4 linked regions of the Homo sapiens genome follow. The protein of the gene in region 2 interacts with the protein of the main gene of each other region in a biochemical or structural test. Each region holds a gene or a part of one and is shown on either strand. Other genes may lie near its edges.

Evidence for each region.
Region 1: the proteins of MPP2 (region 2) and HTR2A interact in a test that uses a peptide from one of them, tested with the Homo sapiens proteins (one large-scale study listed by IntAct).
Region 3: the proteins of MPP2 (region 2) and GPRC6A interact in a test that uses a peptide from one of them, tested with the Homo sapiens proteins (one large-scale study listed by IntAct).
Region 4: the proteins of MPP2 (region 2) and SLCO1A2 interact in a test that uses a peptide from one of them, tested with the Homo sapiens proteins (one large-scale study listed by IntAct).

Annotation. Positions count from the first base shown.
Region 1 is NC_000013.11:46,834,554-46,838,053, forward strand, and holds part of HTR2A (5-hydroxytryptamine receptor 2A), read right to left. Parts: intron 1,087-3,500; coding exon 284-1,086; 3' UTR 1-283. UniProt on the Homo sapiens protein: G-protein coupled receptor for 5-hydroxytryptamine (serotonin).
Region 2 is NC_000017.11:43,901,037-43,904,536, forward strand, and holds part of MPP2 (MAGUK p55 subfamily member 2), read right to left. Parts: intron 3,458-3,500; coding exon of another isoform or gene 3,425-3,457; coding exon 3,394-3,424; intron 529-3,393; exon of another isoform or gene 248-528; intron 1-247. UniProt on the Homo sapiens protein: Postsynaptic MAGUK scaffold protein that links CADM1 cell adhesion molecules to core components of the postsynaptic density. In CA1 pyramidal neurons, required for synaptic KCNN2-containing channel function and long-term potentiation expression.
Region 3 is NC_000006.12:116,826,284-116,830,442, reverse strand, and holds the start of GPRC6A (G-protein coupled receptor family C group 6 member A isoform 1 precursor), read left to right. Parts: upstream 1-1,359; 5' UTR 1,360-1,429; coding exon 1,430-1,623; intron 1,624-4,159. UniProt on the Homo sapiens protein: Receptor activated by multiple ligands, including osteocalcin (BGLAP), basic amino acids, and various cations. Activated by amino acids with a preference for basic amino acids such as L-Lys, L-Arg and L-ornithine but also by small and polar amino acids.
Region 4 is NC_000012.12:21,332,118-21,336,290, reverse strand, and holds the start of SLCO1A2 (solute carrier organic anion transporter family member 1A2), read left to right. Parts: upstream 1-1,373; 5' UTR 1,374-1,464; exon of another isoform or gene 1,465-1,581; 5' UTR 1,582-1,643; coding exon 1,644-1,703; intron 1,704-4,173. UniProt on the Homo sapiens protein: Na(+)-independent transporter that mediates the cellular uptake of a broad range of organic anions such as the endogenous bile salts cholate and deoxycholate, either in their unconjugated or conjugated forms (taurocholate and glycocholate), at the plasmam membrane.

The sequences.
Region 1 (3,500 bases), on a different chromosome or scaffold from region 2:
ATAATTATACAATAAAAGTGAATCATTTTAAAGACATATCATTTACAATGTTATAAATAAGTATCAGAAAGCTCACAGCTGAAATGCTGTCAGAACATTTTCCAAGCACACATTTTGTAGCATTGAACCCCGCTTTTCATTGACAGAATAAAATGAGGCATACAGATATGATCGTTGGTTCCACTAGACTTGTCTAATTTTTTCCAATCTCATATTTTTTTTTTTCCAGATAGGTGAAAACTTGCTCAGTGTGCCTTCCACAGTTGCCACGGCAACTAGCCTATCACACACAGCTCACCTTTTCATTCACTCCGTCGCTATTGTCTTTAGAAGCCTCTTCAGAATGCTGCTTTCCTAGAGCAACCATTGAGCAGTCATTATCTGTTGTCTTGGCATCTTGCTTTGAATTCTTTTTTTGTCCCATTTGAAGTTGGCTAGACTTGTAGGCCAAAGCCGGTATTGTGTTCACTAAAATTAACTGCAATGGTTTTTTGTTTTCCTTGTACTGACACTGAATATACCGTGAAAAGGCTGACCTATAGGTCTTGTTGAACAGTGTGTAGACTAGTGGGTTGACTGCTGAAGAGAGATAACCGATCCAAACAAACACATTGAGCAGGGCCCCAATGACATCCTCATTGCAGGACTCTTTGCAGATGACGGCCATGATGTTTGTGATGAAGAAAGGGCACCACATCACCACAAACAGGAAGAAGACGATGCCCAGCACCTTGCATGCCTTTTGCTCATTGCTGATGGACTGCATAGTCCTCCTGCCTGTGTAGGACCCTGGCTCCCTATGGATCGACCGCTGGAAGAGCTTTTCTGAAGACAAAGAACTCTGAGGGAGGAAGCTGAAAGAAGCTAATTTGGCCCGTGTGCCAAGATCACTTACACACAAAGTAGCTTCTTTCTGGAGTGACTTGATAGTTAGAAAGTAGGTGATCACCATGATGGTTAAGGGAATGAAAAATGACACAAAAGAGCCGATCAGGACAAAGTTATCATCGGCGAGTAAGCAACTCCCCTCCTTAAAGACCTTCGAATCGTCCTGTAGCCCAAAGACTGGTATTGGCATGGATATACCTGGAGTTGAACAGAAAATGAAACATGATTATTAAGGAATTAAGTATATGAAGGCAAGAGCATCATCACATAATATTGGCTATTGAAAAGATTTTATATCATCGTTTAAAAGCTTAACATACTTTGAGAATTTAAAATTCCTTTGGACTTACATATGTGTTTTGTAAGTATATATTATGTAGTTACTTGTATGTTATATTGCCCTATATAGCTAACCCTTATAAAGAAGTATAATAAATCTAGCTTTATTTTTTATGCCACATTTTTCTGATTATAATATTATACTTATTAATTGAAGAAACACACAGAGAGGCAAATAAACTAAAAATTGTCCAATAACGTCACCATCTAGAGATAGCCACAATTAACAACTGATGCTGTTCATTTTATTTATTTATATATTTATTTATTTTTGTCTATGAAAATCTAGAATATAGATTTGTTTCTTTTTTTGATGCTGTTCATTTTAGATACATTCACACACTTACCATGTGCACACATTTTAAAACAGAATTGAGGTTCTTTTTCACAAATAGTTCTGTATCTTTTTTAAAAAATCTAATAATATGTCACAAGCATGGCTTATATATAAAAATAACTATAAAATTTTAAATATAGTTTATTTTCTCTCTAGAAAATTTGGGAGGTACAAAAATGTAACAATGAATAAAGAAAAATAATATGTATTCTCACCAGTCAGGGGCAACCATAATTTACATTTGCATCATTTCTTCTTCCACTTACATGTACATATAAAAGCAAATGTGTATATGCAGTACTTTACATGCAGTACTTTGTACCTTATATGTTTTAGATCTTCCTATTCCATTTAACATTATAAATCATGATAATTGCACATAAAATATTTTTGAGAAATACAATTTTCTAATATTAATTTAAAATAACCAATTTTAATTCTTTTTAAAAAAGCTTTTATTATGGGACATTTTTAACATACACACAACTAACAAACCAAAAACCAAACCCAGTACAGTGAACTCGTCACCCAGCTTCAAAGATTATCAGCTCAAGCCCAATCTTGTTTCATCCATATGTCCTCTGGCTGCCATCCCTCCCATGTTATTATGAAGCAAATCCTAGACATCATGTCATTCAATCTGAAAATATTTATTACGTAGATCTAAAAGCCATGCACTCTTAGACAAACCTAATATTTTCACAATACCATTCTCACTCCTAAATAGAAGTTTAATATTTCCTTAATATTAAATGTAGAGTTAGTGTTCAAATTTCCAATTGTCCCATAAAGGTTGTTCTATGTTTTTAGTAGTAGAGCATTCATAAGGATGGATTGCAAAAAACAAGACAGCCATAGACTTTTTATTGACAAATATAAAAAGTAGGTATAGGATGAGATAATACAGGGGAACATGGGCCTATATGGTTCATTGCTCCATCACCCAGATTTGGGGGATCTGTAAGGCTCCCTCAGGTACAGGGATTAGGCAGAGGAGGAAGCAGAAGTGAATAAAGGCAACCCCTGGCCTCTAATCATGCTATGTGCCCCACTTGATGATAGGACCTTTTTAAAGGAAGATTCAACTGGCCATGTTGTGCAGTTTCACCACCCAGCCCCCACCATGGACAACCTCTCTGCTCCTGGGGAAATAGGTGTATCTTTCTCTACTGGCCTGGGATGGTTGGTCCAAGGCAATCATGAGATGGCTTATTCTCTCTGCCATAAAGGTAGAATCAGGATGATAAAAAAGAGAGGAAACATGAATCAAGTACTCTGTATAACTTAGTTTAAGATTGTTTCTTTCATGAAATGGTAGATATTGCAGGGACAGCCTGGGAGAAAAAGTCAGAAAAATAGTTCCCTTCTAACTCCTGCCCATATTATCAGCACACTCAGAATTGTAGAACAAAGAGTGTTGTGGTTACTGCTTCTGACCGTCTTTAGAGTCTAATACATGGTCTCACACCAGCCAAGAACACCGGTTTATTCCAGAATTGGGGGCCACTGCCTCACTCTTGCCATCCATCTGGAAAAAGGTTTTTGGAGAATCTCTAATCTAACTTCTGCATACTCAGAACAGAGTTCCGCTTCATCCAAGCACAGGCATGACTGTCCTAACCTCATGTCACCTCACATTGGCCATCGTGGCCAGGAAAGAACGCTGAGTTGATGTAATATTCAACACAAATCTTTCTTAGTGACATTTGCCATTATCTTCAAAGACTTAATTAACAATATTTGTCACTTGCCTATGCAAGCCCATCCAGGATTCTTGGAAGGTGGAGATAAATGACATCAGAGCTGTTCATAAGGACACTTATTGTGGCTAATGACTCTTCATTTCCTCCATCCCTCTCTGTTCCTGGCCCATTGTTTGCAACATTCAAGAAGAGATTGATGAGCTGTGCCTCCAAGGAGAACATCCTCTGAGACC
Region 2 (3,500 bases):
ATGCCCTCTGACCTCTGCTCTCAGTCCCCTCTCCAGGCCCTGTTTCCTTTACAATAGTCCCTCAGTCTAAGGAAGTCCCCAAGAACGACTCAGCCCTCCACCGGGAGGCAGCCTCACTTGGGCATGGGGCAAATACCTCAAGCCTCAGACGCCTCCCCCTACCCACCCTTGGTCAGCCACTGGGAGGCAGGGTACGTGGGGGAGGTGGCATCGCTGTGGGTAGGGATGGTGCCCCAGCCCTGCTTACCCCTCGCCTCACAGCAGCTTCTTCCCCTCCCCCATCTCCCATGAGTTCTTCCTCTTAATGAAGGGGATGATGCCCAGGAAGCAAGTCAGGCATCTTGGAACTCAGTTCCCCAGAAAGGAAAAATGAGGGCACATTTGCACACAGGGAAAAGTGTGGGCAGAAGGGAAGGACTCAGCTCCGCTCCGGTGACCCCATTCCTCTGAGATCTTGTGCCCAAGAGGCCACCATCAGGGTACTGCAGCCTCCACTCAGACATTCCCTGAGGAGTGGCACCAGGTCGCATTGCACCCCTGGTTGCCATGACAGTAGAATTACACACCAGGACAGTAACCCAGGGATGGAGGAGAGATTTAAAGGGACAGCTCCACCTGAAAGCAGCCACATATCCCAGCCTTGATCCAAAAAAGGGAGGGAATCTGGTGACAGGGGAAGAGGGAGCAAGGCTGCAGGTCAGGAGATGCCAGGTTCAGGATCTCTAAGTTCTCAGCCCAGTGCCACTGTCCATTTATCTCCCAAGTCTCAGGAAAAGGGCCCCTGACTCTACCCAAAGTAGATATGGGGTCTCCCTGCAAGAGGAATACACCCATACCCTTTCCCTCCCTTCAACCATACTGACCCATGGGGAAGGGCGGAAAAAGGATCTTATTAGCTTTGCCCTTTGCAGAGTCCAAGGCAGGGATCTCCCAGGGGAGGAGGAGGGAAGGGGAGCCTGAACTCAGAGGCAGGGACACAGCTGTCTCTCTATCCTGTGGGAAGTATAATGACCACCAGATAATAAGGGGCAGAATCCACCATTAGATTTTTGAAGCTGGGAGCTAATGTAGCTCAGGATAGGACAGAGGCTGCCTGAAGGAAGAAAAACACTTTGTACTTCTTCCTTTGAATATGAGAAGCCAGGAGCAGCCCCTCGAACAACATGAAGGGGAGCAGGAGCCCCAGGAGTCCTTTGAGGAAGCAGAACCCACCGCCACACCCCAAGGCTCCACTCCCTGTCCCCCATCCTCCCCCACCACGCCCCCATCAAGTGGTCTGCAACAACGAAGCCAAATTGCTGGGCTTGCTCCTCCTCCTACGCCCCAGTCAGGCACTATTGGTGGGTTTACTGGGCAGTCCCGGCTGGAGAGGCCATTAAGCACAGGCTCAGGGGTGGGTTTAATTAATGCCTAAGCAGCTTACAGTGGGGCCTAGGCAGGCTGAAAGAGGCAGGGAGACCCCAGGGAGCCCAGCAGGCTGGACAGGAGATGGGGGACTGAGCCCTCTGATGCTGCAGAAGCTGGGGACATTGGTGCCATCCCTCCACTGCAAGGAGAAGAGGCCTTTCCTGGACAAGTGTACCACAGTTTAGGCCCTGGCTCACTCCCTTCACTTTCTCGGAGAGGAGGCACAGAGGAATCATTCTACCCAAAGTGGCAGCCCTGGAACCTCTGGCAGAGGCAGTAGTGGGGCCTAGAGCAAGGGAAGGAGCTGCATGGGAGGGAGGCATCCAGGCAGGGGGAAGTTCAGACAACTCAGAGCAGAACCATAGCAGTTCCCAGCTGCCCGGGCCTCAGAGGGCCTCTAGCACAGGGAACTTAACCTTCTGGGGTCCTGCGTGCACTACGGGAATCCATGATCCCCTAGAGTAGAATATACCTTTTGTGCATGGATGTATATGTCTACGATGAGGGCTCACTGCTGTCACCAGATTCTAAGTGACTCAGGACCAATAAAATTAAGAACAGGCCAGGTGTGGTGGCTCATGCCTGTAATCCCAGCACTTTGGGAGGCCAAGGCAGGTGGATCACCTGAGGTCAGGACAGCCTGGCCAACATGGTGAAACCCAGTCTCTACAAAAATACAAAAATTAGCTGGGCATGATAGCAGGTGCCTGTAATCCCAGCTACTTGGGAGGCTGAGGCAGGAGAATCACTTGAACCTGGGAGGTGAAGGTTGCAGTGAGCCGAGATCCCACCACTGCCCTCCAGCCTGGGCAACAGAGGGAGACTCCATCTCAAAAAAAAAAAAAAAGAAAAAGAAAAAAGTTAAGAACACTGATCTTGTCCCATCATCTCATCTTAGGGAAATCTCAGGTCTTCAAAAGGAGGTGACTGTTTCAAGGACACAGGGTTAATGCCAAAATAACAACTCAGGCCAGGCACAGTGGTTCACACCTGTAATCCCAGTAGTTTGGGAGGTCGAGGCGGGTGGAGTACTTGAGCTCAGGAGTTTGAGACCAGCATGGGCAACATTTTTGTCTTTACGAAAAATACAAAAATTAGCTGGGCATGGTGGTGCACACCTGTAGTCCCAGCTACTTGGGAGGCTGAGGTGGGAGAATGACTTGAGGCTGGTAGGCAGAGGTTGCAGTGAGCCAAGCTTGCGCCACTGCACTCCAGCCTAGGCTAAAGAGCCAGAACTTGTCTCAAAAACAACAACAACAACTTGGTGGCAGCGGCAGCAACAGCAGCATAATAATTATGACTATTCCTAAAAGTAATGTGCTCTCCCATTACAGCCTTTGCGTCTCACAGCAGCCTCTTTACAGAAGAAGAAATGCGAGCTCCAAGAGGTTAAGCAGTTTGCCACTGAGGCTTTGCTAGTTTGTCTGAGTGGCCCACTCCCTTGTCCTAATGCCTCCTACAGAGCCACGTCCAGGTATCCTAACCTGGTATTCTTGTTCCTTCACTCACAGCTTCCTGGTCCCCAGTACCCCCTGTCCACCTCTGGCACATGCTGGCCTAGTGGGCAGCGATTATGGACTTCTCAGCCCCAGGCTGTGCTGCTGTAATCCCTCCACCCCCAAGCCATTCTCCAAGGCCCAGCTCCGGGGCCACCTCCTGAAGGCCTGGTCCTATGCCACTGCCCTCCAGCAATAGTACGGGTCACCTCTGGAGCATGCATCCCCTGCCCTCCACGGAGGTGAGTTGTGCTCCAGCCCTACACTGGAGCAGGTATGGGTCTTATTCTTTCTCTTCTCCGTTCCAGCACAGGAACCCACACAGAGGAGATGGCCACAGCAGCTGCCAGAAGGAATGGCTGAGTGGTAGGGTGGACAGCAGTGGAGCCAGTTGGTTCTTATCTGGAGCTGTGCAAGTGCCCACCCCTAAGTCCTCGCCTGGCACCCTCTGAACCACTGAAATAAGCTAACATCCTCACCCCCTTCTTACCAGTTTCAGAGTTGGTGGCGGCAACCGGCATGGTGAAGGAGGCAAGGGCTCTGAAACGTCTCTCCTGGAGAGGGGAGAGAGGAGGATGAGCAGATACAAGGGCAAAG
Region 3 (4,159 bases), on a different chromosome or scaffold from region 2:
TTGTAATTACATAAGACCTTTGAGGTTATCTGAGCAAAATAACTAAATTCATGAAAATATAAATCCATCCGATACCATACACACACATATATACCAATAAATAATAAGATTAAGATGAGTAAAATGTAATTGCTAAACATCTCAAGAGTCTTCAGACTCATGTATGTTTGTTAAACTTTCTGGGCAACTGAAGTTAACCGGTTTTCATTCTAATAGAAAATTCTGCCATTAGTAAAAATGGTAAGACTTAATAAAACATTTGAAGCTGCATGATGAGCTGTGACTTCTCCACTCCTCAGTTGTCATAACCCCATAGGACTATGGAATCTAATGCTAATTTGGATAATGAAAAAATGCCACAGTGGCCATTGTACTCTTTTATTTTTTGAAATTTCTTTAAATGTATCTGCCACTGCACTCCAGCCTGGGCAACAGAATGAGACTCTATCTCAAAAAAAAAAAAAAATGTATCTGCTACCCATCAAACAAACTGTATGTATTGGATTTGAAACTGCTTGCCCATGAGATATTCATTTTTAATAAAACATTTTTAAAAGACTGATTTTATTAAATACATTTTAAAACTTTAAACTTTTTCTTAATGGTGACTACATTATTGAGGTTTCTCTATCCTCTGTTAAATTCCAAAAGACACCCAACAAATTATGTTAGTTCAGAGAATCCTAAGTACTTAAGAATATGTAGCCTGAAATCAGTCCCAAATTTATTAAAATATAGCACCCACAATAGTGGAAATGTCAATGATCTATGAACAGACCTTTCTTGTTCAAAGCAAAATACTGTATCGGACAAGTTTCATCTTGTTTTTAGTTTTACCCATCTTCACAAAAGCTACATATTTCTAACACAGGGAAAGTGGAAGTGACAAATACCTAAATTTAACTGAATTTCATTTTTTAAACAGAACTTTTCAGGAAAAATAAAAGCAGGATGGTTTTTTCTAAATACCTGATAAACTATATTGAATTATTTGTGCCTTGAATGTGATACCTTTTTAAAATGCAGAACTGTCTATTTCTAAAGTGGAAAAACTTTTCCAAACTGCTTCTTCTTGAAAGTTCTACATTCTGCTTCAAAAGAAATGCCAACGTGACTCAGGGCCCTTGACATATCACTAGAGTAAAAAAGTACCATTACAGTGAAACTTGTGTTTATAATTCTATCAGCTTTTACATCACATGACTGCTATCACATTATCTCTAACACTGGAGTGTTAAAAAGCCTGTGTTCTTATTGGTGAAATAACTGTTTTGACTATCATCAAGTATCTGAATACTGAGTGTTTCTGGCCTTTGACACTGTCCTATACCTTATAAGGTGTTTACAGGTGAAATAGGAATCTTGCTGGCACTCCGTGCACTTAATGATTCCTAAGAACTCACATGAACTGAGCAAATGAGATAGAAACATGGCATTCTTAATTATACTAATTACCTGCTTTGTGATTATTCTTGCTACTTCACAGCCTTGCCAGACCCCTGATGACTTTGTGGCTGCCACTTCTCCGGGACATATCATAATTGGAGGTTTGTTTGCTATTCATGAAAAAATGTTGTCCTCAGAAGACTCTCCCAGACGACCACAAATCCAGGAGTGTGTTGGGTGAGTAAGTCTCAAAAAACACGTTTAGATTTCAAGATTGTCATGAGACTAGGACATATAAACTGTTAACTTGTATTAATATCTAAATCATTTAAAAAAATAAACTCATATGTATTTTTAAGTTGCATATGGTTAATCTTGCAATCCTTCTTTAAAAGAGAGCTATAACAGCCCTCTATGTATAATGAAACAACCTCCAAGTGCAGAGGATATGCATGCTTTTCATTAATATATTAATTTAGATTTTGCCTTTAAAAAACAATGCCTGAAGTCACTTGAAAAGACATTGTGGCCTATTTTTCACTACAAGCATACATAACCCACATGTATTTCTATCACACACATGTATTTTGTTTTAAACACAGATCTATTATTTAATGCTTTGTTTAAAATAGACTATAGTTGAATTTTTTCTTACTAACATTTTTTTTCAACACTGCATTCATTTCATTCCAGAAATAGTCTAACTCTTTCCTGATAAATTAAGACCCTCCTCAACTCAAAGTGCTCCTTCCTGCTGGATGAACACTTTGTGTCGTGAGAGCTTACCTATGAGAAAGACATTTCACTGGCACAGTATAATGTGGAAAAGTAAAGCTGGGTGGAAGGTGTTGCAAATGGATTTTCCTTAAGGAGAACAGGATATTCTAATTCTCATTTCAGTTTTGGGACAAGCTAATTTTGTAAACTTAGGTAGATCACTTAAACTCTGAGTTCCAATTTCACTGTTGTGTATATTTTCTCATCTGTAAAACAAAGGCCTGGATAACCTCTAAGGACACAGGCAGCATCAGCTGCTGTTGCTATGGAATGTGCTCTTCATGCTTCCTTCCAACTCTAAAATTCTCATTCTATTTTTATGTTTCTATGTCTAAGTTTAATCTTGTTTTTTCTCTTACCTTTCTTTCTTTATCAACGAAGTATTTCCCAAGGCCTCTAAGAATACTTTTAGATAAAATGTGATTCCCTGTCACACTAAGATTTCTTGGCATTCTCCCTAAAAGTTGGGCACTTTTAGCTATTGTCATCATAATCATTGATTAACAGGAATACCAGAGAATGGTAAAAAAAAAAGTTAATAATTAATGAAGATTTTCAGAGCACTATGTTGGCACACAAAGAATGACTGCAGAGTTGAGGCCCACAATTGCAGGCCAACAATTAAGGATGGAAAACACTAAATAGTTATTTGACCAAATAAGGAAATTTCCTATTTTAAAAAATCACTCCGTTGAAAATCTCTTACCTTTTTGTCACTCATCAAGAGAAATGGTACTCACTCAACATTGCACAACTACTTATTAATTGCCTACCTTACCTGTACCCTATTATAGGCACTGGCACACCAACATGAATACACCAAGGAGGTTCCAACTCTAATGGAGCTTACATGTGCTGGACTCCGAAAATATTATACAATTTAATGTCAGACAACCTATTCGTTTACCTTTTTCTCTTCTATGTTTCTCTTTTTTTAATTGATACGTATTAGTTTACATATTTATGAGGTACATGTGGTATTTTGTTATATGCTTAGAATGTGTAATGATCAAGTCAGGCTTTTTGAGGTGTCCACCACTTTGATTATTGTCACTTCTATATATTGGGAACAATTCAAGTCCTCTCTTCTAGCTACATTGAAATATCCAATACATTGTTGCTAACTAGAGTAACTGTGCTGTCAAACGATTGAACTTCTATCTTTTATCTAACTATATGTTTATACCCACTAACCTACCTCTCTTTATTCCCTCTCCTACCCACCCACCTTCCCATCCTCTAGTACTTTTATAATGTCAGCTCTCTACCTTTATGATATCAATGATTTTAGCTCCCACATATGAGTGAGAACATATGATATTCGTCTTTCTGTGCCTGAGTTGTTTCACTTAACATAATGGCCTCCAGTTTCATCCATGTTGCTGCAAATGATATGATTTTATTCTTTTTTTATGGCTGAGTACTATTCTGTTGTGTATATATATCACATTTTCTTTATCTATTCTTCTATTGATGGACACAAGTTGATTCTATATCTTTCCTATTGCAAATAGTGTTATGGTAAGCATGTGAGTGCAGGTATCCCTTTAGTATACTGATTTCCTTTTCTTTGAATAGATACCCAATAGTAGGATTACTGGACTACATTTATCATTTTTAGATTTTTGAGAAATATCCATACTCTTTCCCATAGGGGTTGTACTAATTTACATTTTCTCCAATAGTGTAGATGAGTTCCCTCTTCTGCATCTCCTTGCCAGCATCTGTTTTTGTTTTTGTTTTTGTTTTGTTTTTGTCTTTTTAGTAATAGCTATTCTAACTGGGGTAAGATAATATCTCATTGTGGTTTCAATTTGCATTTCTTTGATGATTAGTGATGCTGAGCATTTTTTATATACCAGTTGGCTATTTATATCTTCTTTTGAGAATCATCTGTTCATGTTCTTTGACCACTTGTTAATGAGATTTTGCTTTTTTATTGTTGAGTTGTTCAATTTCATGCATATTCTGGATATTAGTCTGTTGTTGGATGAAT
Region 4 (4,173 bases), on a different chromosome or scaffold from region 2:
AAAATAGACATTTAATATAGTAATGTTTTTAGCCACAAAGAAGAGTGAAGGCAATTTTGACGTGGGAGAAGAATAAGTTCTCTCCCTTAGTGTTTGATACGGTGACTATATTGGGCTAAGATAATGGTTAGGAGAGAGAGAAGAGAAAAGGGGAGAGAGATTGGGTTCTAAATGCACGAGAAGAAAGAAATGAGGGCAGTTCAGAACAATAACCTGTGAATTTTTTCACCACTTACATACCAAGCAAATTGCATTTCCTTCTACACTGTCTGGTTCTATTCCAATGTGTTTTATTTAAAAGTTTTATCTTTCCCAATGAAAGTTTAAGTTCCTTGGAATCTGGGTCCAAGTATCTTCCACAGAAACATACTTCTCTCGCTAGTTTATACTCTCTGTAGGCACGTACTTGGCTTTCTTGCTCACTGCTGAATGCTGGTGCGTAGCACCATGACTGGCACAGAGTAGATGTTCAATAAGTATTTGTTGTATCTGTGAGAGAATGTGTTAAAATAACAAAACTCAAACATAATAGTGCAGCGACTATGCCTTGATGTGTGTGTGTTTGGGATTCAGCACATTTGTAGAGGTAAAGCAGTTGGTTTTTTAAAAAATTAGTGCCATTCAGGATCACTTGTTAAATGGATATTGTTTAAAGGACTTAATTAATTAATGCTGGGGATACTGTTAAGAAATCATTCTAGAAACTAGAATAAATATTGCCAAAGTGAAACACTTTGGTTTTGATACAAATTATTGCCTTAGTTTCAAGATGTAAAACAAACAAAATCTTTGATGGGATTAGTAGAATTTATTTGAGTTTAATTCAACTTTTTGTTTTACATATAAAAATGTGTGCCTGTATGTTATACATCTGTACATATATTTCCACATATATCTATACCTATTACGTATAGCTACATATAGATACCCATTTATATGTTTAATCTCCTAAGTCTTACATCTTAGTTTGCAATCGTGGGATTATTTTCCAGATCATAGAATTGTTTGTTATTTTTACTAGGTTGTTTTCATGATTAAAATTCCGTGTCTCCCCAGGTTTCCATGTATCAGCAGTGCCCCAGAAAGTGTTTCCCTTCCTGAGACTCTAGGGAAGCCTTGGAATGCAAATAACTTGAAAAGAGAGCCTGGCCAAAAAAAGATTTTTGAGCCTTGGTAGGGTTAGTGAAGCAGGTTTTTAGTACAAACACAACTCAAAGTATGTGTGTTATTAAAAGTAGCTATTTTCATGGAAGTCTTTTGGTACTATTTGTTTTGGCTAGAGAAGTGAAAAGCTTTCTTTTAACCATGTGACCATTATTTTGCAAGATCATAACAAACAATTCTAATATCTTTAATCTCACTAAAGAGTCACTAAAGTTATTTGATGTACCTTTTGAAATAGAAAACCAACAACTAAATCTTCTCTAACACCATGATTTTCTAATCTGTATTAAAGCGTTCCAGGTATTTTTGTAATGCAATGGATTTCAATTATGTTGTTCATTTTCAGCACTTACTTCAAAAGAATGATGCTTTACAATTTTGTAGTTAATTTAACATATTTTTTTGTTTGCTTGAAAGGGTAGAAGTAAGACATATCAAGATTTAAAACATAAATAGCTTGGAACACCCTGAAGAGCAACATGGGAGAAACTGAGAAAAGAATTGAAACCCATAGAATAAGATGTCTTTCCAAGTTGAAGGTATGGAATTTTTGTATGTGGATATATGTGCATGTACACTAGTTTTTAAAATACGACAGTCCTGGTAAAATTGCTCCTATCTGCATGAAGTGATCTAATATTAATGCCATATTGCCTGTTCTATTGATAATTTCTTGCTTTAAAGAAGTTGGTTTTATAACTGAGGGTGTGTCTACACAGGATTATTGATTCAGGCAAGTTAGTCCTAAATGGCTTTGAGAGACTTAAATGGAAGACAGGATCCTAAAAATTTCCAGGCACACATACTGTGGCAGGATTTATTTTTCTGGATCAAAGGCCATGCTCACTCTTGCAGGGTTTCTAACCCAGAGAAATGTGGGAGTCACTCTCCGAAAATGGCTCATTGCACAGAAATGCTTTGTTGATTTGTATGCAATTACCCAGCAAAACAAATGTTTTCTTTAAGCTTTGGCAACATAACAATAATTTCCTGTAAGAAAAATGGCCATTTTGTCAGCTGTTCTGATTTTTTTTTCTATTTCAGAGAAAATTCTGTTTTCTAGCTTCAAAGTCATTTATATTCAAACAAATTTGAATTTATGATAAACCAAGGGATCTGGACATTTGTCCTGATTCTATAGCTAGTGCCTGCAAGTGGTTTCAAAACTAAGACACTGTCACTCATTTTCTCCCTATCAGAAGTTTGTTTTCCATTTATATGTGTGTTGGGGAAATTTAAACATGTATACAAAATTGGAGAATTATGATATAAATCTAAAAAAAATAGACTTGCCTGAAATGGTATGTTAATTAAGAAAAACTTTTTGTGCTTCAGTTTTCTCATCTGAAAAGGGTAATAGCAACATTCCCACCTTATAGGATTCTTTTATGTTTGAAACAATGACTGGAATATTGTAAACTTTCAATAAATATTAGCTATTAATATTAAAAGCATTTGTGGAGAAAAGTCAAGTGGTATTTATAAACAAGAGGTCTTTAATTTTTGATTGCTTTGGAGTTTAGCAAGGTTAGATATTAATGTGGATGTTAAGACAAAATGCTGTAAGCACAAGTTTATCAGGTAAAAGTGAGAGGCAATTGCTTAATAGCAAGTTAGGTTTCTCTGTTTCTCTGAACTTAGAAATATACTCATTAAGCAAAATTCATTAGGAAGCATGAAAGAACTATTTTTAACAAATTTGCTTTAAACTTTGTTGTTGAAATAAGTTGAAAGGGCATTATTGCTAGAAGCTAGTAGGACCAGCTTTATAAATACAGAGATTATTTAGCACTAGACATGAGTCAGAATAGCCACTGATTTCTTTCACTCTGCGAATAAAACCAAACTAGTTAGGCAACCCATGTGTTTTAGGGGAAAAGCAATGAGGTCATGATCCATCTAATTTCTTTTCTTAACATGTAAAGTAGAATAAATTATTTTTCCAAATTTGATTTGTACTTGATTTAGTAGGACTTGCTTTTAAATATAAAATCTGATTTATAAAACTAGGTGAAAATAGTTTGCTCTTAAGAATACACTCTGAGAAGGTTTATAGTGGGAAGAGAGAATATCCACAAATGGTATTCAATATAAAAAATAGCTAGAGATATGGCCATACTATGCTGTAGTCAATCAGTTTTGATTCATATTAAGAATGCTATTCAAATTTCTAGGTCCTTTTCACATAAATTTCTATTTAGGTCTCACAAAAATAATTGATAAATTTTGGCTTAGATGTATTGTGTGGTGTGAATGTGTCCCATCCAAATTCCCATGTTGAAATCCTAATTTCTAAGGTGATGGCAGTAGGAAGTGGGGCCTTCGAGAGGTGATTAGGTCACAAAGGTAAAGCCTTTATGAATGGGTTCAGTGGCTTTATAATAGAGGACTAAGAGAGATTCACTGCATTTTCTGCCATGTGAAGACACAGTGAGAAAGATGGTAGTTTATGAATCAGTATATACAGCCTCTAAGCCACAAATAAAATTCAACCCTCCCACCCCCTGCTCCCAGCACTGAATGGACCTCCTCTTGGTCAAGAGCCTTCCAAAGTTAGTCTAAAAAACAAGTTTAGGCTGTTATGGGAAGGAGGTGTTGGACATGCCTCTTTATACCCTCCTCTCTTTTGGAATTCAGGAATAACCAACCATCATTAACATCAACACAGACCTTAAGTCTGATAAGAAACATTTATATCCATTCTCTATGAAGCCTGCGTATCTAGAGGCTTTATCTGCATGATAAAACCTTGGTCTCCACAAGCCCTGATTGTAAACAGGAAATAATTTTTTATTATTGATAATAACTCTTCCAACCAATTGCCAATCAGAACATTTTAAAATCTACCTGTGACCTGCAAGTTCCTGCTTTGAGTTATCTTGACCTTCCCAATTGAACCAATGTAAATCTTACATGTATTGATTGATGCATTATGTCTTCCTAAAATATATAAGAGCAAGCTGTACTCCACCTTGAACACATGTTTTTAGGACTTCTCTGAGGCTATAC